Linked DNA regions of Homo sapiens: region 1 is linked to region 2. Evidence: fine-mapped expression QTL. A gene starts in region 2. The other region holds a variant in brackets. All regions are shown on one strand. Distances are between the middles of the regions.

Evidence for each region. PIP is the estimated chance that this variant, and not a neighbour inherited with it, causes the effect. A credible set is the group of variants that fine-mapping cannot tell apart.
Region 1: its variant is the best candidate, but not a certain one, in a credible set for the expression of CYP7B1 in adrenal gland (GTEx, PIP 0.84).

Annotation. Positions count from the first base shown.
Region 1 is chr8:64,698,044-64,706,043 of GRCh38, reverse strand. All of the region lies in intron 1 of CYP7B1 (cytochrome P450 family 7 subfamily B member 1), which reads left to right. Among named protein-coding and RNA genes, the nearest start is that of CYP7B1, 97 kb to the left of the region's middle. The variant A/G (reference allele first, on the strand shown) is at 4,769.
Region 2 is chr8:64,794,747-64,802,746 of GRCh38, reverse strand. It overlaps CYP7B1 (cytochrome P450 family 7 subfamily B member 1), which reads left to right and starts at 4,010. Exons shown (of 6, transcript NM_004820.5): 1 at 4,010-4,281. The coding sequence starts at 4,160. LOC105375879 (a long non-coding RNA gene) reads right to left here and starts at 3,966. Exons shown (of 3, transcript XR_928992.3): 1 at 3,650-3,966. It overlaps LOC105375878 (a long non-coding RNA gene), which reads left to right. Exons shown (of 4, transcript NR_188111.1): 3 at 262-379; 4 at 1,221-2,148. RefSeq lists silencers at 4,043-4,092, 4,103-4,212.

The sequences.
Region 1 (8,000 bases), 97 kb after region 2:
TCTTATGTAAATAAAAAAAAATTAAGGCTCAGTTTAGACCTTCTTGGTTAAAATAACCCGTTGGAGTTCAGAGGGCTTATACACCACAATGTTAAATGCTCTAAATACCAAAGTGCCATCTTTCTGAATTTTATTGTTCTCACTGAATCACTGTATTATCTTGATACTTTCTAGCATTTTCAGTGCAATTATTAAAACAGTTATGGCCGCTCTAAAGGAATGTAATTGGAAAAGAAAGATGGCCTGTACTGGATGAAATTTTTAATTAATCTTTCACTGTTAAATTGTTCAAAATTAATCAAGTATATTGCCTATAAGAAGGCAACTGCACTTTACATACTTCAGTATTATCATCACCAAGCCATATATTAAAAGTTAATTTCTGATTTAAAAGTGTACCTTAACTGCAAAACCGTCAATTCTAAGTAATTCTATTACTCCCCTCACCCCCAAAAAATCTTATAAAAACCAAAGGACATGATAAAGAGAGTGCTTTGTGCTTAATGTTTTGAGATTTTTTTTTTTTGGCATGGACTTTGCAACATCAAATTAGGATATATGATTTCATAAAATAACTAATCTGAATTGGAGAATACCATTCATTCACTCATTGATTCAGTCATTCATTCATTTATTTAACACATCTATGTTGAAAAAAGTGATGTTTTAGACAATGAGAATAATGACTGAAATGCAATAGCAATTTTCTGACATATTATGAGACAATAAACAACTTAAATTCTAATCACGGCTGTAGATAAATATCCTTGGGGATATTTGAGAAAATTATGAAAAGGTGGTGATTCCCCCCCCCACCTTTTTGAATTATGCAGATTATATTCTCCACTGGTTCTTGCTTTTTACCGCCCTAACATATCAGAGTGATAAGATACAACCCACCTGATACACTTGGCCCCGAGGAAGTGCTTCTCAGATAAAAGGAGGAGGTGACTTATCCCTTTGCCAGAGCTGGGAATGACTGAAAGAGTTCCTTGGCTGTCTGCCCATTCCTAGGTTGAGAATTATCAGTAAATGGGATCATAGGTAATTACTGAGTAGGCCACAGAGATAATGTCTAAACACATCTAACGCAAGGTCCTTATGATCCTAATAGAGTCAGTGGAACTAAGTAAGTGTAGTTGATTTTTTCCCCCAATAAGTCAACTGGTTGTTGATTTAATTGATTAAGTAGATATTTTCATGCCACACAGACATACTCTAGATGTCAGCATAAAATAAATATATTATTTTGTTGGATATTTTTTAAGATGTGATAGTTGTGATCAAGACCATTTTAAGATAAATGTGTAACAGATATTTCTCAAAGCCAGAACAGCATGAAATGTTATATATCCCTGAATGCAAAAGTCAAGAGGTATGTCTAAGACTTTTCTGCTTTGATGTTAGAGCAGTCTTGATCTTACCACCTGGCTTTCAGAGACTATAAGAAGCTATTTCAAAGAGGCAAAGATGTAAAAAACAAATGTGCTACTGTTCTTAGAATCAATGAAATAAGGTTATACCTTTTCCTGACAATTTTCTATGTTCTGATACATATTATATTTTTAAACCTGCATGCAAAACACATATAATGCTACACATTGAGATGTTACTTAGGAAAGTCATATTATATGAATTAAATGGGGAACCCACTGAGATGATTAAGATATATCTGTGGAATTTATAGACATTATTCATCTACCAGATATTGCCTCTTTAGAAAGAGTATCCTGGAATGCCAGGTTTGATTGAATGACTTGAAATTGGGTAAAAATCTTTTCTGTACTGGGCTAGCCATACAATGAAGTCAGCTGACACATGGGTAAAATAGACAAGCTATTTAATGTCATGATCTGAGGAAGTTAAAAAAAGAGTTTTTATTTCTTCCTGCCATGGATTATCTCTGCCTTTCCTCTTTTTAAAAATAGAAATGCTTCTTTGAGAGTTAACACATCATACTTCTAACAACTTATCATGGGTTAGTTTTTTATTGCTTTCTGTCCTGACTAGGCATATAGAAAGAAAAGTGCAGCAAACAAAAGGATAACCCTGAAGAAAAACTTGAGCTGTTTCTCTGCTTTGTCTAATCTCCTGTCAGGACATCATTTATTACCCACAATATTCACTTGAGAAAACAACTTTGAGAAACCAGCAAAGAAAAAGCCAAAGGATGAAGATGAAGTCCTTCTATAGTTCAAATCGCTCATGTCTGTGATCTTCAAAATGTGACATTGGACAATCAATTTAAATGCTCTTTTTTAAAAGATAGACTGTTGTATTGATTATTATTTCATGCTATCTAAAAGTTTCCAAAATATTTTGTCTTGTTGTAAAGAGAGAACCAGATTAAAACAATCACGTGTCAGTTTGTTTTCTAAATATTCATATATTCTCCTCCCTTTCTGAATGACAGAGCCGTTGACCAACAGCTGTTTCTATTATGTAGTTTGGGATATGCTTCTTTCGTTTGTTTACCCTATTAATGTGAGGATTTCTAATGTTTCATCCTTCAGACAAGGAACTGGTCCTGATGGCCTAGCTGCTACCTATATTTTCCTGGCTTCTTTTGTATGGTATTAAATATGATTTAGAGGTTTCTTCAAATTGTATTTTCATTAAAGGAAAAAACCAAGCATGTAAGAGCCAGACAGTTTTATAAGAAGAGTAGAATATCATGGTGTAAGGGGTTATGCTGTGCTTCCGTTTTATGTATAATTAAGCAATTCAAGCAAATCAAGATAATTTATCTTAGCAACTAGATGATTATTTTTCTCCTTTTGAATAGGAGCTGTCTTTTATTTTGTTTAAAAATGCATCCTTACCTTCTGTTTTGGAACAGAATAGAAGCATTTAAAAAGATAGAATTTCGTATTGTTGAAAGAAATGTGAGACAAAGCTGACAACCCGTTCATAAGGCCCTTTCACCCCATCTCTAGGCATGGTGACATTGGTACAGACAGGGTTTGTCACTCATAAATTTACAGCTTATTCCAGTCTCTTCATAAATTGACTAAATTTTTTGAAAGAAAAAAAATATAGATGTATAAAATACCCAGTTATAGGTTGTGTTCTATTTAGCCCTTGATTGAAACGTATTGCTCCTTAGTATCTTTTAGCTATGAAAATTATAATATGGAACAGAGATTAGAATGAAATTATCATGGCTAGAAGGCATTTACTCAGTGGTGGCAACCACATAAACCTGGGTCCTGAGAATGATGATAATACATTAGGTTCTGCATGCCCGATATTATTGCCGTACATTATGTATGTTTCATTTATACTATTTCGCACACACCAGCAACGCTGACAGATAGGTAATTACTCTCTGCGCCAATGAACAGTTATCAGCACCACCGCTGTTTATTGCTGGAATGAAGCGCGCTTGTCAGTCAAGGTCACTTGTTTGTGTGTCCTCTTCAATAGTTCCTTCACAGTTGTTGAACTTTGCACACAGTTCTTATTGCAGGGTTCCTGGAGGTTACTTTACTACATAATGTGTTTCTGGTGTTATCAAAGTCACTTGTATTTATCACTTTAATTGATAAACAACGAAGTCACAGGAAGCAGAACTGAAGATGTGAAAAAACATATTTTGCTAGTCAGCTGATCCCAGTAGGTTTTCAGTAATGAATGACCTCAAGAAGATGCATTCAGCACAGACCCTTTCAGGTTGTGATACGCTGCCAGCCTAAGCTAGTGAAATCTCATTTTATAACATTAACCTTAATTTCAGCTGCTGATGGATACTGACACAATTTCATAACTACTATAGAGTTAATGTTTTTACCCTCTAGAAGTGTTTTTCTTTGTTCATTTCTTGTGCAGTGCAGAGGTTATTTTCATGCTTAGTATAGTTCTATAATGGGCTAAGTCCATTTGGTTTGACTTAAAACCAGTCATGTTTATTTGTTAGATATGTGCCATTAAAGCCTCCCCTTCCCATAAAAAATATTATCAGTCTAATGCTGGTTCTCCTCATTGTGTTAAAGCACCGGTCGTGTTCCAAAATGAACATTGCATGGTGCATTTTTTAGAGTAAAAATAAATTCAATGCCATTGTGTCGATCCCATGCAGCCTGTAATTTCATCTGTTATAAAATAAAGAGAATGGTTGGTCTTTTTATTTTTGTTTGTTAGCTACAGTGCTTTATTAGAAACTGGAATAACCTCTGTGATATAATAATTTATCTAGTCAAGATAACTGGAGTTATTTCCTTAAGCCTGTGATCAGCTTGAGTTTGTGTGTTGGGAGGTTTATACTGCCGTTGCTTATTACCAAAGAAACAGTTAAAAAGGATTTATGGTAGTGCCCGTTATGTGTGTGTCTGGAATTTTTGTGTATTTAACTTCTCTCCTTGCCTATCTCTGTTTTTTCCTCTCTTAACATTATCGTCAAATAGAGAGACTATCTATACCTACAATTAAATGCAAATTTTATTCAGGCATTTAAGCAGAATCACATTCATTCATTAAACCAAATGATTCTTTTATTTGAAAAAATATATCAGCACATGGTAATATCACACCCTGCTTACAAGGGCCTCTAGTTCTCTGTCAGTGCAAAAGTTTACTATTTCATTATTAAAGGATTAAACTACAGCAAAAGCTGCCTGGTGACCATGAATGTTTTAGTTAATTTGATTATGCCCATAAAGAAAGAGTTTAATTCCATAGCAGCCAGTGGGTCTTATACCTGGCAGTGTGGTTCCAATGCATTACGGGCATGATCTTATCCTGGGAGAGACTGAAATTGCCATTTGGGTGA[A/G]GTGTGGAGGAAGAGATGAGAACTGGGTTCACTGGTGAACCCAGGTTAACACCATGCCTCGACGTTTTCAAAATGCTTCCTTTTCTTAGTTCTTAGTTACCAGAGTGTTACAAAGAAAGGGTTTTGATCTCATGTAGATAGCATAGCATTAATTACCCTGACACTAATTAAACTGCATCAAACAAATACCACCGTGTTCCTCAGGGGGACAACAGAAGGCAGTTTAAAATAATTACTGGAGCTTCATGCATGTGTGAAGTTTTCATTACTCTTAGGACACAAGCAAAAAAGATTTGATATCATTAAAATAGCCACCTTTTAGTGATTGCAACAACAACAACAACAACAACAAAAAGTGACTAAAATTTCCTTGGAGCATATTGATGTCTAAATAGTGGTGGCTTCAGTTCTTCAGAATGGTAACTTTTCCTTAAGAATTGGAAGTGTGTGAAGCAGGAACAGGTGTTCCAGTCACATTCTGGTATGATTATGTATTAGCTTATGTTTGTCAGACCATTTCATTAACCACCCACTGCTATCACATATACATATACTTTGTTCTTTCTGAACCATGAAATGAAATGCATATATCTTCACTAATGCTTGCTATCAATGTAAATGAGAAAAAGAGGCTTATTACCAATCACGACTCCCATGAAGTCCACACCTCTGTACACTTACAGGTAATAAACATCTTTTTTGTAAGTAGAACAAAAGATATATTGAGTTCTGCCTATAATAAGAGATAGTGATCTTGTCCTACTTTTTTGTCCTAATAGATGGTACTTCCCATACATAGTTTGACACAATGCTATGGGAAGCAAGCTTCTCTCAAAACTGGAAGTGCTTGTTATTTTTGAGATCTGACATCATTCTGGACATAAGCAAACTTTTCTGGTCACAGATAATGGACCTTTTGTGCCACTGGACAAGTGCAGTGAATTAGTGGCCACCGTTACTAGGATCATAGATGGTCCCTGTCCTGGTGGTTGTTAGAAAGGACTGATGTCAAAATTGCCAAATGGATGGTATAAATGATTGACAGTGTTGCTGTGTTAGGGCCGGTTATGGTGACTGTGGAAGTTGCTCATGTTTGATTGCTCTTTTAAGTGTGTGTGACTCTGCACATGTGTGCTTGATGTGTGTGCATGGTGAATTCTATGCGTCGTCCCCACTGTCTGCTCAGTATATATGCACACAGCACATTCTACAGTTTTGTCCTCACAAGGTCACTTATCCTATTTATCTCAGTGACATATGAGCAGTGGGACTCAAGTTGTCTGGGTTCTAGCACCAGGTGCCAGCCATCCTCCCTGAAAAGGTGTTGGGAATTAAAATGGGAGAGTGGTCATTTCCAGATTGATGCAACTCATATTTCATTCAGTGAATGACTCCTTGAATGTGATTATGGAGTGGTTCTGTGTATGCAGTACTGCATAACATAAGCCATTTATTTTTTTACTTCCTTCTGAAAGCAATAATTTAAGGGAATTATGCATTATGAGGGTTTTCCAGTAATTTTTTTTAAAATTAAAATAATGCTAGCTATTTTAGGAAACCTGTTTAGGAAAATAACACTGAATTAGTGCTTTGCAGTTGTCACACTAAGCAAAAAATGGAACAAAACTGATTGTAGAAGAATAAAAAATTAATCCAGTTGTAGAAATTTGATGTGTTCAAAAATATGCAAAAAATATACTTTTGTTCCTTTATAGCCAGATGGTTTGTCCTATTTTAAGCTGATAGTAACTTCATACATCTCTCTTGAATGTCATTGGTTTTAACTGGCAGACAGTATCTACTATTAGAATTTTCCTTATTCCTGGATGATCTAAAGTGTATTTTTGGAACATTTGGATGATCATACTGTACACCAAGAAAATTTTTTCATTACACTTAGCTCATACTCAAAAAAGTGTTTATATAATTTTAAAAAAACCTCTAAAAATGAACAGTTCTTTTGACATGATGTTGACAGAAGTCACTTTGATGTAGTTTAGAGTCATGAATTTTCTATCTGTTCCATTTTTCCTGGGGCTCCATCAACTCAGACATCCTGATCTGTCATTTTTCAACTCTTTGTGAAGGCCTTGACAGATAGAGGTTTTGACAAGTGCTGGACATCAGCAGCAATTTAGAATAAGCAGTGTATATTTCTCCAGGTAAAGTGACAAAATGTCTAAAAGTGTCAGAAGAACTATGTGGCCTGCAATCATCTCTAATACTATAAAGCAAGCTTCCATTTAAGTACTGTGTTGCAGCATTGTATGATGGCTGAAATTTAAAATTCTGTCAGAACCTATGATTAGAGGGCATCTGGCTTATTTACAAGTGTTTGCAATATTAAGAACCTTAGGGTCACTAGAAAAAAATCCTTTAAATTTCTAATGAGTGAATGATCAGGATAATCACATAATGTGATAGGAGTCTTTAAAACTATAACACACCATTATATATTTTTTTGTTTCTTCAGTACTAATTTGGGTCATTCTTTTTAATGAAAACCTACTTCCTGTGCTGTCTTCAGAGTGTACAGTTCAGAGTTCAACTTAAGGGAACTTTCACTGGGTGCTAATTATAACAGGTCATTCAGGTTTCAGATGTGCCAGCATTTTTCCTGGTTGACTCTTCTATCAATGACTAAGTAATAACTGTAAATATCATCTCGCATATTGAATATGTTGTCCTTTTCATATAATTATTTTGTGTCTGTATTCACTCAAGAAACAGCTGTTAAAAGTTGAGTGGGATGCAAAATGGCACAGCCTGAAGATGTTCTTACTCACTCAGCTAACTCCCTTTTGATGTGATACCTACTGGCAGGGTCGCGTGGTGAATTCAACTTCTTTGACAGCCATCAGCACTACTGACCAGTGGTTTTGGGTTTTCTAGTGAGGGGAAAGAGTAGGAAAGAATTCCGTAGTTTAGTTTTTTTCCCCCCCCTGCTGCTGGAGCTAAAGCTTCTGCCAACAACTATCTAAATCAACACCATGCCAACGTGATCTGCAGACCAAAGGTCACTCCAACATCTGGCCCCACTGTCTGCTTCTTTCAGGTTTGTCACTGGGCAGCATCTGCTTATGGATTCTTTCTCAACCTCTCTTTGATCTCTCTGACAGTAAAAAGAAGCTTCTATCACCCATCATGTGTTAGGACTTTAAAAAATAAATTCGAAAGCATGAGACATTGGAAAACTGGTGGAATTTTATGTTTTTCACTCTTGTATACGTTG
Region 2 (8,000 bases):
ATGAGGGTCACTTGGCTAGTGCAGTGAGTCACTGAAGTACAATCTGTCACCCTCTCCCTTTCTTTACTTCCCCTACTCTTTCTTTCTGTCACCCTCTTCCTCCCCTCCACTCCCTTCCCCTCCCTCCCTCCCTGCTTCCCTACTTCCTTCCTTCGAGTGGCCTTTTTACTTTCTTTTATCCAATATTAATGTGTTTAGTCCCAGCTTTTTGAAGGAAGTGACATCTCATTCTTTTCTTTTCTTTTTTTTTTTTTGAGACAGAGTCTTGCTCTGTTGCCTAGGCTGAAGTGAAGTAGTGTGATCTCGGCTCGCCACAACCTCTGCCTCCCAGGTTCAAGCGATTCTCCTGCCTCAGCCTCCCGAGTAGCTGGAACTATAGGTGCGTGCCACCATGCCCAGCTAATTTTTGTATTTTTAGTAGACAGTTTCACTATATTGCCCGCCTGCCTGCCTGCCTGCCTTCCTTCCTTCCTTCTTTTGAGAGAGACAGGGTTTCTTGCTCTGTTGCTCAGGCTGGAGTGTACAGTAGTGTACTCTGATGATAGCTCACTGTGGCCTCTAAGTCCTCGGTGGGCTCAAAGTGATCCTCCTGCTTCAGCCTCCTGATTAGCCAAGTAGCTGGGACTACAGGTGTACACCACCACACCCAGCTAACTAGAAGTAGTCTTTATGATGGACTGGCATTTGTTCAGTTAAAAATGGAGGACTCTGTTACTGAGGAGGAAGGGGTGAGCAGATATGGAGGGTCAACCGGCAATCTCTGTCAGAGAGGTGATGGGGATAATGGTATACTTTGGCGTTAAAACTGAATTGAACTGGATTGAATATAATGAGGCTAATAATGAGCCACCATGAAAGTAAAAGAAAAATAAAAGGTATCTTTAGATTGTTTTAATCTGGTTATAGAGCGAAGGTCCCTTTTAATAAAAGTGGAAAACCCAAAAGAAATATATATTTAAGATGTATTGCATATATATAATAAAGTGTCCCAAGTAAGCCACTGTGCAGATAACATAGGAATATGATACAGTTGCAAACCAAATCTGGTAAATAACTATGCAGGCTTCTTCCTTCCACTTCTCTAAGGCAGGGCAATCAACCATGGGTTTTTGCTGTTATTAATGTGATAAAATAATATGTTTGGTATGGTGTCTGGCAAATAATAAATGTTCAGTAAGTAGAATGAATTCTTAGTATTTTAATTATATTTTTAAACAAAGGTCATCTAGGGGAAAACAGAAGTATGAGGATTGAGACTTCTTCTGAAAATCAGTGAGTGGCTCTCTGCAGTGGTTACAGAAATGCCCCAGCATGGACTCCCTCCTGTAAACTGGCTCTGCTGTCCCAGCAGTGACGGAAAGCACTCAATTTGTTTTCTCTTGGAAGAGACAGAGTGGCTGTCAGTTTACTGCAATATTTTGGACTGCCTGGAAAATTCAATGTACAACAGGAGAAAGGAGAGGCAGGAGACAGACTCTGGAATAGAAGTCAAAGACAAAGAGGCTCGTAAACATCAAGATTCTGGGGCTAATCTAGCCATTCACAGCTTTAGAACCATGGACAGTAAAACTTAAAATATATACTATGTTCTAACCACCACAAGGTTATTCACTCTAGCAACTAAAAAAGCACTGGCCTCAGGATTTGCAACATTAAAAGTCACAGCTCATCCACCATCAGATGCTAACTGACCCTGCTGTTCCACAAGCCATAACTACAGCTTTGATTGGACAAGAGTCTGGTTTCAGTAACTTTCTCCTGATTAAGAAGACCACTGACCATTGACTGGTTTTGCCAGTTTACAGAGATTACACACTTACCTACCTTTGTATGTAAAATGATCTTTTGATATATAAAGCATAACTGTAGCACATTTAAATGTTAAGTAGCCACCCCAAAGTGAACATGGGTCATATGTTACGTGCATGTTTGTTCAATAGGCATGTGTCAGGACCACCTTCATGAATATTCATAGCTCCTCCTGTAACCAGTTAAATATATATGTTTAGCCAACCTCTTCAGCATAAAGCTCCCACCCCAAGCCCTCCTTTGAAGGGCCTGTCTCTAGTTTTGCCTGGATGGCCACCTTGCAGGCTGTAACCCTTTGGAAGAAATAAAGTCTCCTCTCTCCTTTTCAAAACTTAAAAATTGTGAATTTTTATTTTTATTTTATGTATTTAACTTTTAAGTTTAGGACACATGTGCAGGTTTGTTATATAGGTAAATTCACATCATGGGGGTTTGTTGTACAGATTATTTCATCACCAAGCTATTAAGCCCAGTAATTATTAGTCATTTTTTCTGATCGTCTCCCTCCTCACCCACTCTGCCCTCCAGCAGGCCCCAGTATCCGTTGTTCCCCTCTATGTGTCCATGTGTTCTCATCATTTAGCTCCCACTTATAAGTGAGAACATGCTGTATTTGCTTTTCTGTTGCTAAGGATAATGGCCCCCAGCTCCATCCATGTTCCTGCAAAGGATATGATCTCATTCTTTTTTATGGCTGCATAGAATTTCATGGTGTATATACCACATTTTCTTTATGCAGTCTACCACTGATGGACATTTAGGTTGATTCCATGTCTTTGCTATTGTGAACAGTGCTGCAATGAACATAAGCGTGCATGTGTCTTTATGACAGAGTGATTTATATTCCTTTGGGTATATACACAGTAATGGGATTGCCAGATCCTATGGTAGTTCTGTCTTTGAGGAACTACCACACTGATTTCCAAAATACATGTGGCCAACAAGCATATGAAAAAAAGCTCAATGACACTGATCATTAGAGAAATGCAAATCAAAACTACAATGGATTTTTTAAGTTAATAATGTGAACAGGCTGAGTATGAGGGACATGGTGGCCCAAGCTTGAGTATATATATGGAACCGTTCTGGCGAGGGGAGTTGTACAATGAAGACAATTTGTGCAGGGCTTCTCATTGCAGGTGGAGGATATGACTTCGTCACAAAGACAACCATTAAGAGTTTTGAACAGAGTAAAAGCTGGAGAGGTCTGTGTTTTAGGGAGGTGGAAATGGGGATGATGGACTGGAAGGGTAAAAAACCAGAGATTGGTTTTGAAGCTGCTGTACCCATTCCAGAGAAGTGTTGCATTGACAGAGCACACAAGTCCTCGAATAGGACCGTGGTTAGAACGGCCGATATTTATCAGTGGGAATGGTAAACATTTATCAAGTGAGCAACCAAGTTCAGTTACTTAATCTGAGTCTCATTATGTCTTCTATAAAATACACATTAAAAATAGAAAGTAAAAACGTGGGTAAAGTACCCAGTGGATGGTCATTACTCAGAAAAAGGTATTTTAAAAGTTTCTCCCTTATTCTTTCTGAGTACAGCCTGTAGTACTTGAACCACTTCTCTTTCGTCCCCTACCACGCTGTTCTGCAATCTCTTTTTACCTGTCTCACTCTCTTCCTGTACTGTGTGCCTCATCGGGACTTCTAAAGGCTTACGGCCTAGGTCTTTGTATTCCGTGTCTCTGGCACGCGCCTCTGCACACAGCAGGCCTGAACCAAAACTTGTGAGCAAATAGGATGTAAGGGGGTGAAGGAGGTGGGCGCGAAACGGGTTCGAGGTCGCGCACTCCGCCGGTTTCTGCCGCCAGCCCAACCCCGCTGGGTCGTACCTAAGAGATCGCCGGTGTCAGAGCGCAGCGGGCACCTTCACAAGCATCTTGAGGGACAAGCAGAGTCGCTCCTCCCGCAGGGCGCGGGCTAAGAAGTGAGGAACCCAAGGGGCTCCCGTCCAACTAAGAAGCGAAATCCCCCACCTCCAGGCCTTCAGGGCTGGTTCTTGGGAAATCCTAACTCTTTCCCTTCTAACCCCTTCCTTGGCCCTTCTTCCTGCCCGGGAGGATCAAGGGCGCTGTTTTCCAGAAGCTGCCGGGTCGGAAACGGTGGGGGAACGGGGCGGTACGCGTGGGTGGAGGATAGGCGGGGAGGGGGCAGTCCACGAACTTTTGTCATTCAGCCTGGGAGACCACGGTGACATTCCTGTCTGCGCTGCGGGCAGGCCAGCCTCTCCGGCCCTGGACTAGGGGGCGCCGCCGAGAGAAGCCGCCGCAGGCTGCAGAGTCGCCGACCGCGCTGTTCGCAGGCAGACCCCGGGCTGCCCACCGCGGCCTAGCGCGCGCCGGATGGCAGGAGAAGTGTCCGCGGCCACGGGCCGCTTTTCGCTGGAGCGGTTGGGCCTCCCGGGCCTGGCCCTCGCCGCGGCCCTGCTGCTCCTGGCCCTCTGCTTGCTTGTCCGGCGCACCAGGTAAGCGCCTCGGCCGCCAGGCCACGCATGCGCCCTGGGCCCCGCGGGCCGCGCGCGACCCAGATGGCGAGGGGAGTCCCCCTCCATGATTTCCAGTGCAGACAGTCAGAACTTGCTGCGGGGTACTGGCTTCCTTTGGGACTTTGTAATAACAAAGGCTTCTTCTGTCTTTTTCCCACACATACGCGTACATATTAAAGCTTTGGGACCGAATTCCATTTGCTGCTCCAGCGTAAGTTGTAATAAGCCCTAGGTTGGCGGTATGCATTATGCATCACAGACACATTGTGTGCCTTGCCACTGCGAGTTGATATTTTATGGCCTAGAATTCATAGAGCATTTCAGGAGGGGAATATTCTTAAATTTCATCAGTTAAAAGAGAACTGTTTCAAGAAAATGCCAGTGCATGGTGTGAACAATAACTCTGAGTGCCTCTCTTCCTCAGTTTACCTCACTGTACCTCATTTGGAAAGCTGAAATAATAGTACATGCCTCGTGAGATTTTTGTGAGTACTAAATGAGTTAATGGAGAGTATTTTATGCAGTTGTCCTATCATTTTTATAAGGACAAAACAAAACACACAATAATGACAAAATCTAGACGTGTGTCACTTTAATTTGAATTGTGGAAGTAGAAATAGAGAAGTTCAGATAAAATCATTCACTTTGAGTTTAATCTGTTTTTCCTTTCTTTCTGGGTCCTATTTTCATACTGCTCTGGTGTTCATCGCTTTTGAGAACCAAGCGGATGCATTTTGTTGGATGATAATTGATATATGTATGTATATTTGCATACATATGTATCAATGTATAGATATCTATGTGTGTGTGATACAGGTTGTTTCTCAATAGTTTTGGGGGAAGTGACACCTTTGTACTGCATACAAATATCTATGGACATTTCTAGAATGCCTGGAGATGAGTACTCTAGGAGTATTTGCCTTTCTTCCCATGTCAGTTTTCAGAGATGTTCCTGGAATGTGCGCTTCCAGGTTGCCTTTTCCAATGGCTGTACTTTTGCTTTAGAGCCCAAGATGAGGACTCAGGACACTTGAACTTCAGTGGTATGTGATTCTATGTAGGTTCCACCTTCTCTATTTGCAGGGTCTCTATTTGCATTTGCAAGCCAGTTAAGATGCACCCCTAGGTATGCCTTTAAAGAGAGGTGGTAAAAGAAGGCTGTTGGTTCTATTCCCACTTTACATGCAGGGTAGAAACAGACAAGCTGACTAGGGCAGTTTAGATCAGTGAAGGTGATTGGTGTGAGAATGTGGAACTTGAGGGACAGGAAGGCAAAAGGGCAAGGTAGGCTTTCTCTTCTAGCATTCTGAGAATAGGCTGATCTTTCTCTATATCATGAAAAATTATTTTACTGAGATATTCATGCCATCAACTGCCAATTCCTTCATACCAGGAAGACCGTTTAATGCCCCAAATCTATAGGACACTACTTTGATTATACTGCATTTCAGTGTATAGAAGATAGCTTCATTTGTCCCAGTACAGAGTCATGTTCCTTATTTCTAATGTTTGGATAGTTTACCCTAATGCTCTACGAAAATGATTTTTCAGATATCACCTCTAAGAACAGAAACATGGTTAAGAGTCCCTGATATATTCTTACAGATTTTTTAAAGCTTATGCTAATATGCATGAATATATGTTAATAAAAATCGTGGGGAAATATACCCTGTGTTGCACCTTATATTTTCCACTTTGCAATACATTTTAGATCCCTTCCTATGTCAGTTTATAGAAGTCATTATTTGTAATGATTATATAAATATACACCATAGATACACAAAAACACACACACAAAACATAGATATCTTTGAGCTTTTGTGGAAATATTTATGTAAGATGGTGGAGTTGTTATCAAAATGTATGTGTGCTTTATGTTTTAATAGATGTTGCCAAACTACTCTAAGTCTCAATTTATGTTACTACTAATGTAGTGCAAGTGCCAATTTCTCCACATTCTGCCAATACTGGTATTATAAATCATTTTAATTTTGCCAATCTGATACATAAAGAAAATGCAGCTTCATTTTTATCCCAAATTTTCATGTATTTACTTTTAAAGGAATTTGTATACTTTTAAAGAAAATAATTGTCTGTTTCTTCAATAATTTATTTTTCTATTGGGTTCTTTTTCTATATAATCAGCAAAGACTCTTATGTAATGGGAATTTTCATACTCTTTCATACCAGCTGCAATTATTTTTACTATTGTAATTTGCATTTGTTTAAGAGTTTCTGGATATATGTCCTTGCTTAGAAAGCCCTTCTTGTTCCTAACATGATAAAAATATTCAGCACAGTTTTCCATTATCACATTGAGAGATTTTTATACATACATAGATTACATTTTTATTCTCATTCCATTTTCATCTTTTGAACAATTATGGCTGAAAAGTTTGTAATATTGCATAGTATAGGAATGCCAGATGTTCCAAAGTAAAAATTTAAATATTACCTATAAAAATGGTAAAAAAATTTTTAACAATCGGTAAAAATCAATTCAGAGGTCATTTGTTCCCTTCAGACACTTACCAATTCCACCTCTTTTGGCTACAGTACTTTGATTTCCTTTTGTGAAATTGTCTTTTCCCTTGTTGGATATTATCTGGTGAGACTGTCAATCACAGATGCCATTGCAGTACTTGTCAGGAGAGATGACAGTGGCTTAGCCTAGGGTTGTGACTGTGGGGTTGATGGAAGGTGGTTAGAATCAGGATACATTTTTGACAGCAGAGTCAACATAATTTACTAATGGACTGAACATGATGTGTGAGAGAGATGGGAATCAACAATGAAGCTTAGAAGTTTTGTTTCCCTTTTTTTTGGTTTTGGGTTTTTTGTCTGATTATTTAGTGAACGGTAATATCATTTCCTTAGATAGGGAAGGTTTGGGAGAATTGAGGAAATCAATAATTCTCTTTGGGTTATGTTAAATAGGCAGTGAGCACCAAAAGCTCAGGGGAGAGGTCCAGGCAGGATACATATTTGTGAAAGCCATAAATGTGAAGTGGGAATTAAAGCAAGAACAAGTTGAGATCGCCTGATGAAAGGGTTTGATGGAGAAGAGGAGGGCCTGGGCCACTCTCCTTATGGAAACTGAGCCTGGCGGAGAAAGAGGAAAATATTTTACACTCCTTTCTAGTCAGTTCCTACCCGAGTTCTGAGTCAGTTTTGCTCATTCTCAAACTTCATATAAATGGGATTATACAGTATCCTTTTTTGCGTATAACTTATTTCTCTCAACATAATGATTTTAAGATTCACTCATGTTGTTGTATCTATCATTAGTTCATTCATTCTATTTAATTGTGGTTTGTAATATATATAACATATTGATTGAGAGAAGATTGAGGGGCATAGAATATAGAGTTTTCTATCCACAACCATTTCGGAAAATTGACACTTTTCGAAGTAATTGTTGCTTTTTTTTTTCTGAACACTTCCGCCAGTAATACATGAGGGTTTACGTTGCTCCACATCCTTGCCAGTATTTAATAATGCCAGTCTATTGATTGGAAGCACTATCTTTCTGGATTTTGGATTTTGTTTTTTTCCTATGAAGTGTTGATTTTTGTTTTAGCACGCAGATACATTTCTGGCTAATTATTCTGAACTCATGGAAGCTTAGTTTTACTCTTTGTCAAGGTGAATCTATGAAAAGCTTGAGATATTTACAGATTCTCTCTTCTTTGGTGATG